Linked DNA regions of Homo sapiens: region 2 is linked to region 1. The links come from fine-mapping of genetic effects on gene expression. A gene starts in region 1. The other region holds a variant in brackets. All regions are shown on one strand. Distances are between the middles of the regions. Region 1 holds the start of SNX29-AS2 (SNX29 antisense RNA 2). Region 2 overlaps SNX29 (sorting nexin 29).

Region 1 (8,339 bases):
GGTGCGATCTCGGCTCACTGCAACCTCTGCCTCCCAGGTTCAAGCAATTCTCCCTGCCTCCGCCTCCTGAGTAGCTGGGATTATAGGTGCCAGCCGCCATGCCCAGCTAATTTTTGTATTTTTAGTAGAGATGGGGTTTCTCCATGTTGGCCAGACTAGTCTCAAACTCCTGACCTCAAATGATCCACCTGCCTCGGCCTCCCAAAGTGTTGAGATTACAGGTATGAGCCACCATGCCTGGCCCCTGCCACAGATTTTCAATACGACCAATCAATCATTCCTACATAATCAATTACAGGGAAGCAGTAATTTTGGCTCAGATGATTTGTGACCAAAGTACAGTGCAAACACGGTTGTAAGACTCACTTCGTCCATAAAATAACTAGCGATTGCTCGGCTTCACCTGGCATTCAGCCTGTGACAACTCGCTCCCGGGGGGCCAGTAAAGGTGCCAGGGACGTGGCGTGGGGGCTGTCTTCAGTGATATTCCTGTGGTGTGCAGCCTTCTAAAACAGACCCCGTGGCTCCGGTTCCTGGTCCTCACCTCCTGGGTAATCCCCTGAGTGTGGCTTGGCCCTAGTGACTTGCCTCTGTCCTAATGAACAGATTAGAGTAGAATATAGTAGAAATCATGGAATGCCACTTTTTTTTTTTTTTTTTTTTTGAGACGGAGTCTCGCTCTGTCACCCAGACTGGAATGTAGTGGGTCGATCTTGGCTCACTGCAACCTCCGCCTCCCGGGCTCAAGTGATTCTCCTGCCTCAGCCTCCTGAGTAGCTGGGATCACAGGCGTGTGTAACTACCGCCTGGCTAATTTTTGTGTTTTTAGTAGAGATGGGGCTTCACCATGTTGGCCAGGCTGGTCTCGAACTCCTGACCTCAAATGCACCCCCACCTTAGCCTCCCAAAATGCTAGAATTACAGGCGTGAGCCACTGCTCCCGGCCAGAATGCTACCTCTAAAGCTTAGACTACAAAACACCCTGATTCCCATTTAGTTGGTCTCTCTCTTTTGCTTTCTTTGGCCGCAGTGAAGAGGCCTGGATAGGCAAGAAACCGAGGGTGGCCTCCAGTCAACAGCTGGAGAGTAACTGAGGCCCTCAGTCCAAGAGTCCGTAAGAAACTGAATCCTGCCAACAACCACACGGGTTAGCTTGGACGCAGATCCTTCCCTAGGAGAGCCCTGAGGTGTCTGCAGTCACCGGCTGAGGCTGTGGTTGCAGCCTGGGAGAGACCCTGGAGAGAGAACCAGCTGAGTGGCACGAGGACTCCAGGCCCACAGAAACTGTGAGATGGTAAATGCTGTCACTGCCAAATGTCCTTTTTCCTCTCAGTGTTGGGACAATTTGTTACACAGAGAAAGATACAATCACTAAATTGTACCTTTTAGCTATTTCTAAATTGTTTCATTTAGCTATTTCTGCTGTTTGCACTTAATGAGTCATTGGCATAATGTCAAATCATTCCCAATGAGTCTATGGGCGCCAAAATAATGGGGGCTAAAACTGCAATCCATGGATAAAATCTAGAGGAGTGTTCCCCAAACCCCGGTGCATCACAAAGCACCACCAGGATTCTTGCTACACTCGCCTCCCACTTGCACTGTTGCTGAATAACGTTGCCTTTTCAATCCATGCATTTTTTTTTAAGACAGGGTCTCACTATGTTGCCCAGGCTAGTCTGGAGCTCCTGGGCTCAAGTGACCCTGGGGTGGGATTACACCATTCATCTTTTTTCACTTATAACATTTACTTAAAAAGGAAAGTATGTATCACTCTAGCAAACAGAAAGCCAGTATCACTAGAAGGCAACTGGATCTGATGAAAGCCAAATGTCATTAAATCCTAAGTGTTAGTGGTTCTCAACCTCAGGAGCATCAGAATCATGCAAAACAGTGAGAGGTGCCCAGGTCCCATTGAAGAGATTCTCCTGCAGCTGATCTGGGGGTGAGCCTTGGCCTCAAGGCGTCTGGACTTTCTGAGCGGAGTCTACTGCAGCCGCATCTGAGAGCTCGGAACTTCCCAGTGGCCGACGGCACCATGACCCAGAGGCCCACACTCACTTTGTCAGGGTCTCCAAGAGTTAAAGCCGGGCTAGCATCAACCTCAGACCTCACCAGCATGGCCAAAAGGAAAAGGGGAACACCTTCCCAAGCAGAGCCCATATTATTCAACACCTGACCCTGAGACATCTAACATCACTCTACGATCACCAGGGCTACACGCCTCGTACTCCACACAGACAGACCCGAGAGCTGGACAGAGGCGTCTCTTTGGGCAGTCCTCTGTGGAAGTGACTGATCAAAATAAAGACATTCTGAGCAACAGACACTTGTAGGTTACTGCATCTGGTGAGGGACTGGATTCAGTCATTATAGCTCAGCTCACATGGTGTCTCCTCCACCAGGCTGCAGACTGTGTGAGTCCAGGGGACAGTGACCAAGGCCTGCTCTCTGCATCCCTGATGCCTAGGTCAGTCCCTGGCGTAGGGAAGACACTATTAGCATCCAATGAATAAATAGGTGAAGTGTCATCCAAACTGGATCTTGGGGAATGGGCTAGACACAGCCCACCATCCAGTGGGGAGAAGTGGTATTCCAGAGGGGACCTGGAGGAGCAGGGCCAAACCTCTGCTAGCCAGCCCTTGCTCCTCCACCATTAGCTTCCCCAGTTAAGCCCTGGCTTATTCCAACAGCCACTGCTGAAGGCACCAGTTCTCTCTGTGACTGATGGATAATTTCATACCCAAATTGGAAACCACTTAAATTGAGACATCAGGAAAACCAGAGGCGGGCAACATATGATATCTCTTTATATTTGACAGCAAGTAAAATGTGAAAACAGCAGTGTTGACCATCTTGAGACAAATAAACCCACAGTCCCTTGGTGGTTTGTGGGGCAGGCACAGAATGCTTCATTTCAGCCAAATTCACCATGTGTGTTCAGGGCATCGGTAGTCAGGATGCTAAGGTGAAAAGCGGGAACTAAGATTCACGCATTCAGCCAATGCTTTATACTCTGTATCAGGTGCTGGGGACACAGCCATACATAAAATGGACAAAGGAGAGAGCAAATAAACAACTCTATGCCAAGTAGCATTAGTATTATGAGGAAAAATAAAGCAGGAGAGTGCTATTTTAACCAAGTTTATGATATAAGCTGATATTTTATTCCCTACTTTGGATGATTTAGAGGCATTTACTGTTTAAAACCTCATACAACTCTCTTTGGTGGGCATTCCTAGACCCATTTAAAGATGAGGATATGGGCCAGGCATAGCAGCTCATATACTTGTAATCCCAGCACTATGGGAGGCCGAGGCAGGAGGATCACTTGAGCCCAGGAGTTTGAGACCAGCCTGGGCCATATAGTGAAACCCCATCTCTATAAAAATTTGAGTTAGCCAAGTGTGGTGGTGCATGCCTGTAATCCCAGCTACTCAGGAGGCTGAGGTGGGAGGACTGCTTGAGCCCACAAGTCGGAGGCTGCAGCGAGCTATGACTGCACCACTGCACTCCAGTCTGGGCAACACAGCGAGACTGTCTCTTAAAAAAATTAAAAATACAAAATGTAAAGAAATAAAGGTGAGGACATGAAGACTCTAAAAAGAGACTTACAGCTCCATCTCCTACTAATCATGGGGACATGGAGACTTGGGGATATTGCCTACCTTATCTGTGCCTTAGTCTTGTCATCTCTAAAATGGAGACATGAGAACCTACATCAGTGCTTGCTACTACATGCACAGCTCATGGAATAGGATTTGGTATGTAATAAGTGCCAGTATACCTGTCTGCAGGTAGGAGTGTAAATGACACTCCCACTTTCAAGAACTTCATTATCTCATGGAGAAGCCACAGGATACATCCATGAAACTAGCAATGAGAATATTGTGAGCAAACCATGTCGATTGATACCACCATTCCCGCTGCCTAACAGGCCCATCTTCCTGATCAACTTCAACTCATCCTTAAAAACTCAAGTCAAACGTCTCCTCTTTGAAACCTTCCATGACATACCCCAGCAGGTAACTAACCCCACCATTGTGCCATCATTATACTTGATACCTACAGAATTCTATTTCTTACTCATTGCTCATTCTTTCATTCAACTACTGTGCATCAACAGCCTGCCATCTACCACCCCCTCATGAACCTCCAGGGCAAGGTATGTTTAGTATGTCTGTGTCTTCCACCGACGACAAACTTCTTGGGGGCCAAATAACTGAGTGTAGCTCAACGGAATTAATTAACTAATGAATAAACAAAGAACAACATAAGATTAGACAAAGTGAGCGGTCCAGAGGGGAAGAGGATTACAGGAATTTAAAGAACATTAGAAACGTACCTACCAAAACTCACTATTGACAGCGCCACTAGGGGCTTTCTCAAAGAATGAATGACACCTTGAAGGATGGGGAAGATTTGGAAGAGTGTGAAAGAGGAGGAAGTCGACATATATTCATGACTGAAGAATGCAAAGTCTCAAAACAATCTGAACAGTATAAATTATCCCATTTGTGTTAAAAATAGATGTGCGTTAGGCATGTGTGTGTGTATATATATGCCTGCCTATATGCAAATGCATAAAAAATACCTGGAAGGGTATATACCAAACGCTTCACAGCAGGATCGCTAGGAGGGAACACTTGTCTTTTGTACTCTAGATAGTTGTGCATTATTTATATTCTTTCAGAAATGTATTTTTATATTATTTATATAACTTAGAAAAAATGTTAAACCATGTCTTCTAAAAGACAAATGGTGAAAATGCAGAGCGATGGAAGTAGAAGGAACAGGAGGAGCAAATGCTGAGGGACAGGACTCGGTGGAGAAAGAGCAGACGAAAAGACATAGGGCGAAGGCGAGAGTCAGGTCCTGCTTCGCCATCTGCCATATTATTTTTAAAACAAAGCTAAAAAATATCTGCGTTGCATTGCAGCACTGGGGGCAAGAGTTGGCTGCAAGCTTTGCTCTAACAGGACAGTGTGGCGATTCCCACAGGAGGCCCACACACTCAGGCTGGCATAGGCAATGACACCCTGGACAGGAGAAACGAAAGGAAGCCACTCTCCCCGAACAGAAATAAAAATCTGGCTGGGTGCAGTGGCTCACGCCTATAATCCCAGCACTTTGGGAGGCTGAGGCAGGATTGCTTGAGCCCAGAAGTTCGAGACCAGTATGGGCAACATAGAAAGACCCTGTCTCTACAAAAAAATTTTAAAAATAACAAAATTAGCCAGGCATGGTGGTATGCACCTATAGTGCCAGCTTCTCCGGAGCCTGAAGTGCAAGGATCGCTGAGCCCAGGAGTTTGAGGCTGCAGTGAGCTATAAGTACACCACTGCCCTCCAGCCTGAGGGACAGAGAAAGACCCTGTCTCTATTTAGGAAAGAGGAAAGGAAGGAAAGAGGGAAGGAAGGGAGGGAGGGAGGAGGGAAGAGAGAAAGAAAGGAAGGAAGGAAGGAAGGTTGGTCCAAAGGAGCTTGAAGTTCTTCCAACTTTATCAAAAGCCTTGGCTGATCCCCAACGCCTGGCTGGCAACATCAGTTGCATCCCCAACCACCGCTTTGAGATGGACAAGGCCCTCCATTTTCGAATATCTGGGAGAACACCATCTGAACTCTGATCAACAAAATCACCTTCCTCAGAAACCAGGACGGCAGCTCTGCAGACCTCATGGGCAAGAAAGCTGTGGCCCAAGAACACTGGGGTGTAGGTAATACCAAGGTGGTGCCCACCCCTCAAGAAGAGGTTATTTCCAGAAGAACAGGTCAAAGGGAGCCAATGGCTTGGCTTTTTGCAACTAAATCAGGGATCCCTTTACCAAAACATATCTATTCCCATCTAATCACATAACGTGCTGGTCGCCCAGAAAAGAGACAGCAATGAATCTAGGCACAAACTGCTCTGGTTCCCACAGACCAGCTGGCCAGGGAACCAAACTCCATGAAACACACAGCGAAACAGCATTGACTTTTACTAGGAGATTATATAAACTCATTTCAGGGAGATGGGGAAGCCTCCCAGAACACGCCGGAAGATGCCCTTGGTGCTGCTCAGTGCCTCGCCCAAAGTGCCTACGTGACTGATGGCCCAAGAGACAAGGAAGCAGAGATGTACCTTCATTTATTTGTTTTGAGACGGAGTTTCGCTCTGTCACCCAGGCTGAAGTATAATGGCACAATCTCCACTTGCTGCAACCTCCACCTCCCAGGTTCAAGCAATTATCCTGCCTCACCCTCCCAAGTAGCTGGGATTACAGGCACTTGCCATCAAACCCAGCTAATTTTTGTATTTTTAGTAGAGATGGGTTTTCACCACGTTGGCCAGGCTGGTCTCGAACTCCTGACCTCAGGTGATCCGCTCGCCTTGGCCTCCCAAATGCTGGGATTACAGGTGTGAGCCACCGCACCCAGCCACCTTTATTTTTGTTGTTGATTGTTTTTTGTTTTTGTTTTTGTTTTGTTTTGTTTCTGAGATGGAGTCTTGCTCTGTCTCTCAGGCTAGAGTGCAATGGCACCATCTTGGCTCACTGCAGTCTCCACCTCCCGGATTTAAGCGATTCTTCTGCTTCAGCCTCCCGAGTAGCTGGGATTAAGGGCACATGCTACCACGCCCAGTTACTTTTTCGTATTTTTAGTAGAGACAGGGTTTCACCACGTTGGCCAGGCTGGTCTCAAACTCCTGCCTGACCTCAGGTGATCAGCCCACCTCAGCCTCCCAAAGTGCTGGGATTACAGGCATCAGCCACTGTGCCTGGCCTCAAAGAAAGATTTTTTCAAATAAGAAGAAATCGTTCAAAAAATACATAGAACATCAGATGCAACTTGTGCGGAAGGTGTGACTAACAAGAAGTGAACCCTCAATGCAGGGAAATAAATATATTAAATTAAGGAATAAGTATAATGTATTTAGTTAGAAGACTTGTACAACTATTAACATAATCATGTGGTTATTATGTATCCCTGGAAATACTGTGTGTGTTAATTTAGCAGAAATTGAACAAATTAACTTAGTATCTAGAGGGATGCGTCATAGCCAGTGAGATTTACAAGGTGGCACTGAGACAGAATGGAAAGCACTGGGAGGGTCCACATTTTTAGGATGACAGAAATGAAATGGTCAAGGACAGTGTCATCACCTGACCATGTACAGGAGAGGACCTGGCCCAGACCAGCTTCTAGAGGAGTCCCACGCGGTTGCCCCAGGCACAGGAACCCCTTTCCCATGCTCATGACATCATATTAAGATATGAACATGCGGCCGGGCACGGTGGCTCACGCCTGTAATCCCAGCACTTTGGGAGGCCAAGGTGGGTCGATCACTTGAGGCCAGGAGTTCAAGACCAGCCTGGCCAACATGGTGAAACCCCATCTTTACTAAAAATACAAAAATTAGCTGGGCACGGTGGCACACACCTGTAATCCCAGCTACTCGGGAGGCTAAGGCAGGAGAATTGCTTGAACCTAGGAGGCGGAGGTTGTAGTGAGCCGAGATCGAGCCACTGCACTCCAGTCTGAGTGACAGAGCAAAACTCCGTCTCAAAAAAAAAAAAAGATATGAACATGCTAATAACATGCATACCAGGCAGGAGCAAAGAACCAGGGTCTTGAGATTACTCCCTGTGGGAGAGGTGAGTGGAGTCTGGGGGCAGTTTCTATAAGAGACCAAGAATGAGATCAGAGGAAGCTTACTTATTCAATCAGAGCAGGCCTTCCTGCACCAATAATGAATGTGGGTCATGAGCTCAGGATTTTGATGAATCCATATCTGTGCACCCGGTTCAGATGAAATTCAAAGAACAGAGAGGCCATTTCAAGAAGGAATGGGTGGTAACTAAAATGAGAACAAGGGGCACGTGAGCCCCAGGAGAATCCTGGTGGCCGCTGCCTGTCACTTCTCCTGCAGGTGACGTTGTGAGCGGCAAACTCAAACCATGCATTCACAAACATATGCTGGAGAAGAGAAGACAGGACAGGTAGAACGGAGGGGTAAAAAGCTGCCTTCCAATCCCAGCTTCTATTCCTTCAGGATCAGTGGCAGGAAAGATCTCAGCATTATCCAAGCAGGACCTCTGTCTCCATGCCAAATAACCATGAAGTGAAGCCAGAGAGACACAAGTCACACAAAATATATTCTGGGCTTTGACCTTCTCAAAGGCAGGGACTGTATTTTCCACGTCTGCTACATCTCCGTAGTCTTCCTCACATTGGGTAAAGTGGCCACACAAAACACAGTGACCGACAGGCGATGTAAGCCAGTGTGGAAAATGCCTCTCTTGACTCACAGCTGAAGTCATTATAGAGTACCAAGTTTCTAAATCTTGATTATTTTGCACC
Region 2 (8,339 bases), 150 kb after region 1:
ACCCTTACATGGTCTGACTCCAGAAACCCTACTCATAATGACAACTCACACTGAGGAAACGCATTTCAGATCACTAGTGTCAAAAGGAGACAAGAGCCAGAGTCCCAAATTTAGAATCCAAAGACCTAAACTCAGTTGCCCACTCCGCCACTTGCCAGTTGCAGAGCCCTGCATTGAGCCTCAGTTTAGCCACTTTCAAAGTGAGAATAATATCTACACCTGTGGCCTCAAAGGGCTGTCAAAGCATCCAAATGAAAACAGCACTCTGCAGGCTGGGCGTCGTGGCTTACACCTGTAATCCCAGCACTTTGGGAGTCTGAGGTGGGCGGATCACCTGAGGTCGGGAGTTTGAGAACAGACTGGCCAACATGGCAAAACCTCATCTCTACTAAAAATACAAAAATTAGCTGGGCATGGTGGCGGGTGCCTGTAGTCCTAGCTACCCAAGAGGCTGAGGCAGAAGAATTGCTGGAACCCAGGAGACAGAAGTTGCAGGGAGCCAAGATTGCACCATTGCACTCCAGCCTGGGTGACAGAGAGAGACTCTGTCTCAAAGAAAAAAGACAGCACTCTGCAAACTGTGAAGCTTCACCCAGATATGAAGTAGCCAGCCCCACTCTTCTTCCTGCCTGCACCAGAAGCCCAGCGGGAAGCTGCCCCAACTGAATGTCCATTCGATGTAAACATACAAGCTGGTGGTTGTCTTTTATCAAGTGGTCTTTTTCCCTTATAAAAACAATGCATGTCCACTGTGGAAGAGCTAACAAGGAAAGGAGAGGCTTAGAGGATGGGCTGACATCAATTTCAAGCCCGCTTGTTTGAGAATGTTTCAGTGGGCAGATCAACCATTTCTCCCACTATACAACCCCCTCAACCCACCCTCACCCCTGCACCCATCAGAAATCAATGTAACTTTACCAGGCTTGTTTCTGTTTCCTAATTTGCTCTGTGACCTTGGGCAAGTGACTTAAGCTCTCTGTGTTTCTGCATCTGCAGAATGAAGATCGTAATAGCACCTACCTATGTAGGCTTATGTGACGATTCAATGAGTCAATGTACAGATCTTCAAACAGTGCCCGGCATGGAGTTAGCACTACTTAAATTTTAGCTTTTATTCTTTATCATCCTCTCTACCTAACGTGGAAAGGTCCAGTTCCAAGGCAGGGAGAAGGGAGAGCTCACTTGCTCGTCACTGCTGATGAGTTGAAATGAGATGGTACGGTCAGTGACAGTGCCCTGGAATAAACAACCCCTCTCTTGGGAGTTCCTTAGTGCACCCAAGGAAGCACGGGATCATGCGGGGAAGAGGCAGTTGGGGCATTTTCAACAGACACGCTGGAGAGCAGGCAGACAGGACCAACGCATGCAGGGCCCTGGGCGCCACAATTTTCCAGCAAATGCGACGGATGTTCAGTCCTTCCCTTCCCAATACTTCCCCACAAAGCCACCAAAGTTAAACCCAAGTTGCTGGTCACTATAAGCCATGAATAGCCCATCTGTTCATCCTTTTTTTGTTTGTTCATTTTTGAGACAGTCTTGCTCTGTTGCCCAGGCTGGTGTGCAGTGGCGCCATCTTGGCTTACTGCAACCTCCACCTCCCGGGTTCAAGTGATTCTCCTGCCTCAGCCTCCCAAGTAGCTGCAATTACAGATGTGTGCCACCATGCCCAGCTAATTTTGTATTTTTAGTAGAGATGGGGTTTTACCATGATGGCCAGGCTGATCTCAAACTCCTGACCTCAGGTAATCCACCCACCTCGGCCTCCCGAAGTGCTGGGATTACGGGGCTGAGCCACCACACCTGGTCCATCTGGTCACCCTTTGGACAGGAACAAGACGAGGGCCTGATTTCCCAGGCTCAGTGATCTAGATAGTGACCCCCGGCTTTCTGCCCCCACCCTCCAATCTCTCCCCTCCCCACTCAGCCTGCTGCGTATCAGTGCCAAGTTTGCCATTCTTCAGAAGTACCAGAGATTACTACGTGTGCCTCGCAGAAAATGCCGAGTGGAATGAAGAAGAAGAAGAAAAAAAAACTTCATCATACGATTCATATATGGGCAAGAACTACAAACAATTCAGGGCGCTAAAATTAATTTGCTCCCCTGCCAATGAAGAGAGGGTGAGCATCGAGGCAGACTGTAATAAAGACGTACTTAATGTGTACAGCACATATTTATTCATTTTTAGAAAATGTGCAGCGCTACCACCCCCCTTCTCCCATAAAACCTGACCATCCTACTCAGCTGCTATTCTTATCCCTTGCTCATTTGCGTAATTTTAACACTGCAGAATATAGCCAGCCTAAGAATATGTTTTTATAATTACACCCATCACAGGAACTGTCAGCATCTAATGACGGATAATTTCAGCTATTATAAGAAGCTTAAAAGATCATTTTCATGAATAATTCGTAATATGAATCATTAAATTCAAACAATGTCAGAAATTAAAAGGAAAAGAAAAGAAAAATATTTTAGGTGCCTAAAAGTAACCATCCCTTTAAAGGCAGAATCCAGTCTCTGATGTGCACAGAAACAACGCAACATGCAGGGGAGATCAGCACGAGCAGGGAAGAAACATGCAAATTGGCTCAGGTCATTTCACTCTTTCCATTTTTCACCAGGTCCCCCTAGCCTGAGGATAAAATCACAGCCTCATAGCAGGTCACGCAGAGTCTGCCTGCTTGACCCCTGCCTGTCTCTCCAGTTCATCTCTCACCTCTTCCTCCTGCCACCCTGGGTCCTATGCAGGCCCCTAACCTCCCAGGGCTTTTGTGCCTGTGAATCTGTTGCTCTCCCTCCCTCCCTCCCTCCCTTCCTCCCTCCCTCCCTCCCATAAAGAAAACCTGACTGAAAATGAAATAAGCCTACACTGGAAGCAGAACCAACACAAAAAGTGATGCATCTTCCTGGTAAACTGTTTGAGCACCTGGATCCAGCCACACCTGCACCCCAAGCTTCTCAGCTCTGTGAAATAACACACATTCTTGTTACCTCCAACTCACAGCGCGGTGGCGAAAGGGTGGGGGTTCTTCTTACTAAAATAAGGCTGCAGGTCGCAAGAGACCCTGGAGTAACAGCAGAATCAGTTTTCAAGGCTTGTCTGGGCCAAAGCCAACAAAGCAGGACACTCAGTCAGGGACACAGAGAGAGTTGAGGCCGGGACAGGTACCGGTGGGGTGTGTGTGCGTGCACGTGCACGTGTGTGTACACGTGTGTGCGCTGGGGGGCTGTGGAGTGAGGGGTACCC[G/A]GATCAATGTACGAGTGATTGAGCCAGACCCAAGATAGGACAAATCACCTATAAGGTGGCTTGGCCAAGAGGTATGTCTACACTGCATGGTGGTAGCAAAGCCCCTAAATCCACTCTTTTCAGTGAAACACAAAAACCACAGGACAATCCTCATTTCCAGAGGAAACTGGTCTGTGCGTCACTTTGCAATTAGAAAAACATTATGTGTTAAAATACGCATGAATTTTCAATAAGAGAAAACATGTTTATACATTCAATAAGGAAGAGAGAAAGGGAAGAATGGTCTTCACGAACAGACAAGAACATCAAACTTAAGTACACCACGGCATTCCAGAATATTACCCCTTTCTACACAACAACTGCCTTCACACTACAGGTTGTATGTCATTAGCAAGGTAGCGAAAATAATCAGTAAGTCACAAGTGGCGTTTGCTAAAACAGAGTAGAACAGGACATAAAACATGAGAACGTTCTGCACGTAATAAAGGTTAAGTATTGTTCCCAGAAGGTTGTGTCTCAATGACTATATACACATATGTGTATGCTTAAAAGAGTATTTCTTACTGTGGGCCACAGTCAAAAAGGACTGAAAACCACTTTTATAGAAGATGTTACATCAAAAAAAAAAAAAAGATGATGTAGATCAAAGATGACAACTGACGATATAACATGTGGTTTGCAAACCAAATGATGGACGCTGCACCCACGCTTTGAATCAGCAACAGCACTTCTGAACCTCCTTCCTGCCAAAAGGCCCCAGGATATAAGGAGACAGCTTACTACAATCCTCTTTGTAGTAGCAAAAACCTGGAAACAGGGCCAGGCGCGGTGGCTCACACCTGTAATCCCAGCACTTTGGGAGGCCAAGGCGGGCAGATCACAAGGTCAGGAGATCGAGACCAACCTGGCTAACACAGTGAAACCCCGTCTCTACTAAAAATACAAAAAATTAGCCAGGACTGGTGGCAGGTGCCTTTAGTCCCAGCTACTTGGGAGGCTGAGGCAGGAGAATGGCGTGAACCCGGCAGGTGGAGCTTGCAGTGAGCCGAGGTCGCGCCACTGCACTCCAGACTGGGCAACAAAGCGAGACTGTGTCTAAAAAAATAAATAATATATAATAAATAAAAACCTGGAAACAACCTAAATTCCATCTATGAGGAAATGATTTGAAAAATTATAGCATAGCCACATGATGGACTCTAATATGCAGATATTAATGATTTAGCTATACATCTTTTGATCAGGAGGAAAATTCCTGACTGTTCAGTGATACACTCTTACCTGAAAAAAGCAAGGTTGACCAGGGATCAGCACACATTTTCTTCAGCGGGCCAGATGGTAAATATTTTGGGGTTTGCAGGCCACAGGTCTCTGCAAGAACTATTCAACTCTTGTGTTATAGCTCAAAAGCGGAGATGGAAATAATGAATGAATATGGCCATGATCCAATAAAACTTTATTTAAAAAGGTGGCATGCCCATGGGCCATGGTTTCCCAACTCCTGACATAGACTGTAATTCCATTTTTGGAAAAGAAATAGGAAGAATAGATATACGTTTGTTTGTGGAGTAGATTTGTGTGATTACCTCTGGTGATCTAAAAAGGGTAGCATCGGGAGAGATTAACTTCTTTACGTACCTCTGCACTGCTAGACTTGTTATAAAGGGCATATATTACTCATTTTTAAAAATCTAATAAAGTATTAAATTATTTAAAAAATCAAAGTATGAAGTACAAGCTCCAGTGTCTACTTCCACTGAAATCAATTCTCTGTAATATATCCAAACAATTTTTTTATCATTGCAAATAATAGAGCCTTCCATAATTCATATTTAATTGGATGTCAACTGTCATAATTGGAACTCTCCAGCTAAAAATTGTCCCCAAAAGGTGGGAAAAGTGATAACAAGTCATGGGAAACCAAGAAAAATTTTATTGTCTCCCAATGAGGAACCAAATTATACAGAAAGAGTAGTTTAAAACTTACACTCACAAGCCTGGATCTACTGTTCAGTAAGCCAGGCAGTTACCATCCACGTTTTATAGATGGAGGATGAGGCTGAGTTATGCCATCCCCAAATGACATGAGCATGAAGCCAAGATTTAGACCTGGGTCTGAATTCCAGTTGAATGAAATTCACTTGGCACTGATCAATAGCAGATAAACAGCACATATGCCCATGGTAAATCCAATCATTCATGCTCCAAGAACACCCTAGATTTACAGGGGAAATAAGCATGGGACTAAAAGCAGCTGGCCATCTTACTGCTGAAACATTAAGAGAAGGATCAATCCTGTTTCACCCAAACAGGGATGAGTCACTGCCTCACCTACGGGTGGCAGACATACTACAGGTGGTAGATATACTACCTGTACTACCTGTCTACAGGTGTTAGACACACTACCACCTGTAGGTTTCAAAGTATTGAGTAGAGACCATATTTCACATGTCTCCACTGAACTGACCCCATCACCGTATCTCTAGCAAAGCCAGAACCTCCTCCCAGATGGCTCATCAAAAGCACAGTGGCTGCTAACAAACAAGTGTGGCAGAAACAGCAGGTGTTGGGGGCTGGGCATGGTGGCTCACGCCTATAATCCCAGAACTTTGGGAGGCCAAGGCAGGAGGACTGCTCAAGCCCAGGAGTTCAAGACCAGCCTGGGAAACATCGTGAGACCCTGTCTCTACAAAAAATACAAAAAAATTATCCAGGTGTGCTATAGTCCCAGCTACTTCAGAGGCTGAGATGGGAGAATCACCTGAGCCTGGGAAGTCAAGGATGAGGTAAGCCATGATCACACCACTGCACTCCAGCCTGGGCAATGAAGGGACACCCTGTCTCAAAACAAAAACAAAAGAAACCCAGCAGGTGTCCCCTAATACCCATTCTTTTTGTGTTTAGCAAGAAAATCAGCAATTTTTGCTGGGTGCTTGGCCACCTAGGTGGAAAACAAAGAGACTATGTTTCCCAGCATCCCTTGCAGCTAGCTGTGGCCTCATGAAAGTGTCGTGGGCAAACTGCAGAAGAGAAGACAAGTGAACTTGAAGACTCAGCACTAGAAATGGAGAAGATGAATGAACTTGAAGACTTAGCAACAGAAATGGAGAAAGCGAGTGAATTTGAAGACTCAGCAACAGAAATGATCCAAAACGAGATGTAGGGGTGGGTGGGGTGGGGAGGGCACATGGGCAGGCAATGTGCCCAAGGTCACACTGCTAGCAAAGGGCAGAGCTAGAACTTTCTCGGCCAACACCCACAATCTAAGTCTTCATGCTATAAGGCTTCCCAGTACAGGCTGCATAATGAATGCTGTCTCACCTTCCTTAGGAAGACATGAAGGAGCAGACAAGACCAGTGGTCAGCTTGCATGCCCATCAAACCCGACTTCTTGTCATCTCGGACACACGTGTGGCTGGCTGCTGGCAGGTGCTTGATGTTATGTACACTCACATTGTACCTTCATCTGATTTTCCCAAACTCCCTACCAATGATTTATTGCTTTTTGTGCCATCATATTTCTTCTGAGCCCATAAAAAGTCCATGTGTCAAGGAAAGGGTCAGGGGAGGGGTCACAAAGCCCTTCAGGCAGAGAATGCTTCTCCCAAGACTGTTTGTGGCAAAGTGCCATACCTACTCGGAAAAATATATTCCAAAATATTAACAGTGCTTGAGGGTTTATCAATGATATTTTATTTTCTCCTTTTTCTCTTGTGTCTATCTTCTTTAATTTTCTATAATGAATATAATTTTGGGTTTTTAATAAGGAGAAAGAAAACACAAATTGTTTTTCAACAACTTTATTGTTGAGAAACAATTTAAGGCAAGCCACGATGAGCTCCGCAGGCTGCTTCTGGCCCAGGATGTATGCCTGCTTGCTGTCTACTCCAAATCCTTCATTTTGCCCAGAAGGCAGCAAAGACCACCAAAGCAAGGCCCCACAACTGTGCACGCACCACTCCTGATGGGCCAGCAGGAGGACCCCTGCACTCTGCTAATAGCACTATAATGAGGGCAGCCAGATGCAAATGAGGGCAGCAGTAATTAAAGGTACAGCCTTGCTTGGCTTAATTGGCTCCACAGGCAGGAAACGGGGTGTTTTTGGAGGAATTCATTCCCCAAAACAGTGAGATTACGAGGACAAAATCAGAAACAAAGGGTAAGGGGAAGCTGTGCAAGCTGAGGAATTCTGGGTACAGCACGTACCTCAAATGCCTCCCAGTGACTCTAATTAAGTGCACCCAACTAGGGCATCATAGGACTCAAGGTCCACCTGCCTGCCTGTTCCACTGCCTGGCAGAAATCTTGAACTAAAAAGACCAGGCACCCCCCTCTGGAGCCCAGGTTCCTGTGCCTACCCAGTCACCCCAGTCTATGAGCCCCAGGTGGGTAGATATAGAGTATTACTCACTTCTGTATCAGGACATCAGAGATCCAGGCCCTGCCACTCCCCAGCTGTGCACCTGGGGCAAAGCGCTTGATGATAACAATCTAATACTTACATAGAGTGCATGGAGGGGACTTTAGCCCAGAGAGTCTGGCCCCATTATACACCTTCTGATTTTTTTTTTTTTTTTCTGTAGAGATTGCGTCTCAAACTCCTGGCCTTAAGCAACCCTCCTCCTACCTCAGCCTCTCAAAGTGCTGGGATTACAGGTGGAAGCCGCCGTGCCCAGCCGGTCTCTGACCTTTCTAAGCTTCAGTTCTCCCGTGTAAATGGGGATAATAGTACCCACCTCACAGGACAGTTGCCATGAAGCAGTTAGCACAGGGTCTAGCAATGGTGCTTAATGCATGTTGGCTATTATTACTGGGTGCTCAGCAAACTCATTCATGCATTCACTCACTCATTTATTCATCAAATGTCTACTGATAACCCACCAGGGACCAGGCACTGTTTTGGAAGCTAGGTGCACAACAGTATCAACATCAACTCAGTCCCTACTCTCATGACCTTATATCCTGGCTAATGTTTCTTGAATCTGTCACCACAGAAATAAAGAGATTACATTTTTAAAGTATAAAATAGGCAGCAATAGACCTGGGAGTGACCAACTAGCAAAAATGATGGCAGGGAAATCATGGATGGCT

Evidence for each region. PIP is the estimated chance that this variant, and not a neighbour inherited with it, causes the effect.
Region 2: its variant is fine-mapped to the expression of SNX29-AS2 in testis (GTEx, PIP 0.98).

The regions. Positions count from the first base shown.
Region 1 is chr16:12,368,358-12,376,696 of GRCh38, reverse strand. SNX29-AS2 (SNX29 antisense RNA 2) reads left to right here and starts at 4,096. Exons shown (of 2, transcript NR_188406.1): 1 at 4,096-4,165. The region is part of intron 16 of SNX29 (sorting nexin 29); the gene reads right to left. It overlaps LOC105371087 (a long non-coding RNA gene), which reads right to left and starts at 6,191. Exons shown (of 3, transcript XR_933083.4): 1 at 3,788-6,191; 2 at 3,669-3,695; 3 at 650-3,028.
Region 2 is chr16:12,214,800-12,223,138 of GRCh38, reverse strand. All of the region lies in intron 14 of SNX29 (sorting nexin 29), which reads right to left. Among named protein-coding and RNA genes, the nearest start is that of SNX29-AS2, 150 kb to the left of the region's middle. The variant G/A (reference allele first, on the strand shown) is at 3,249.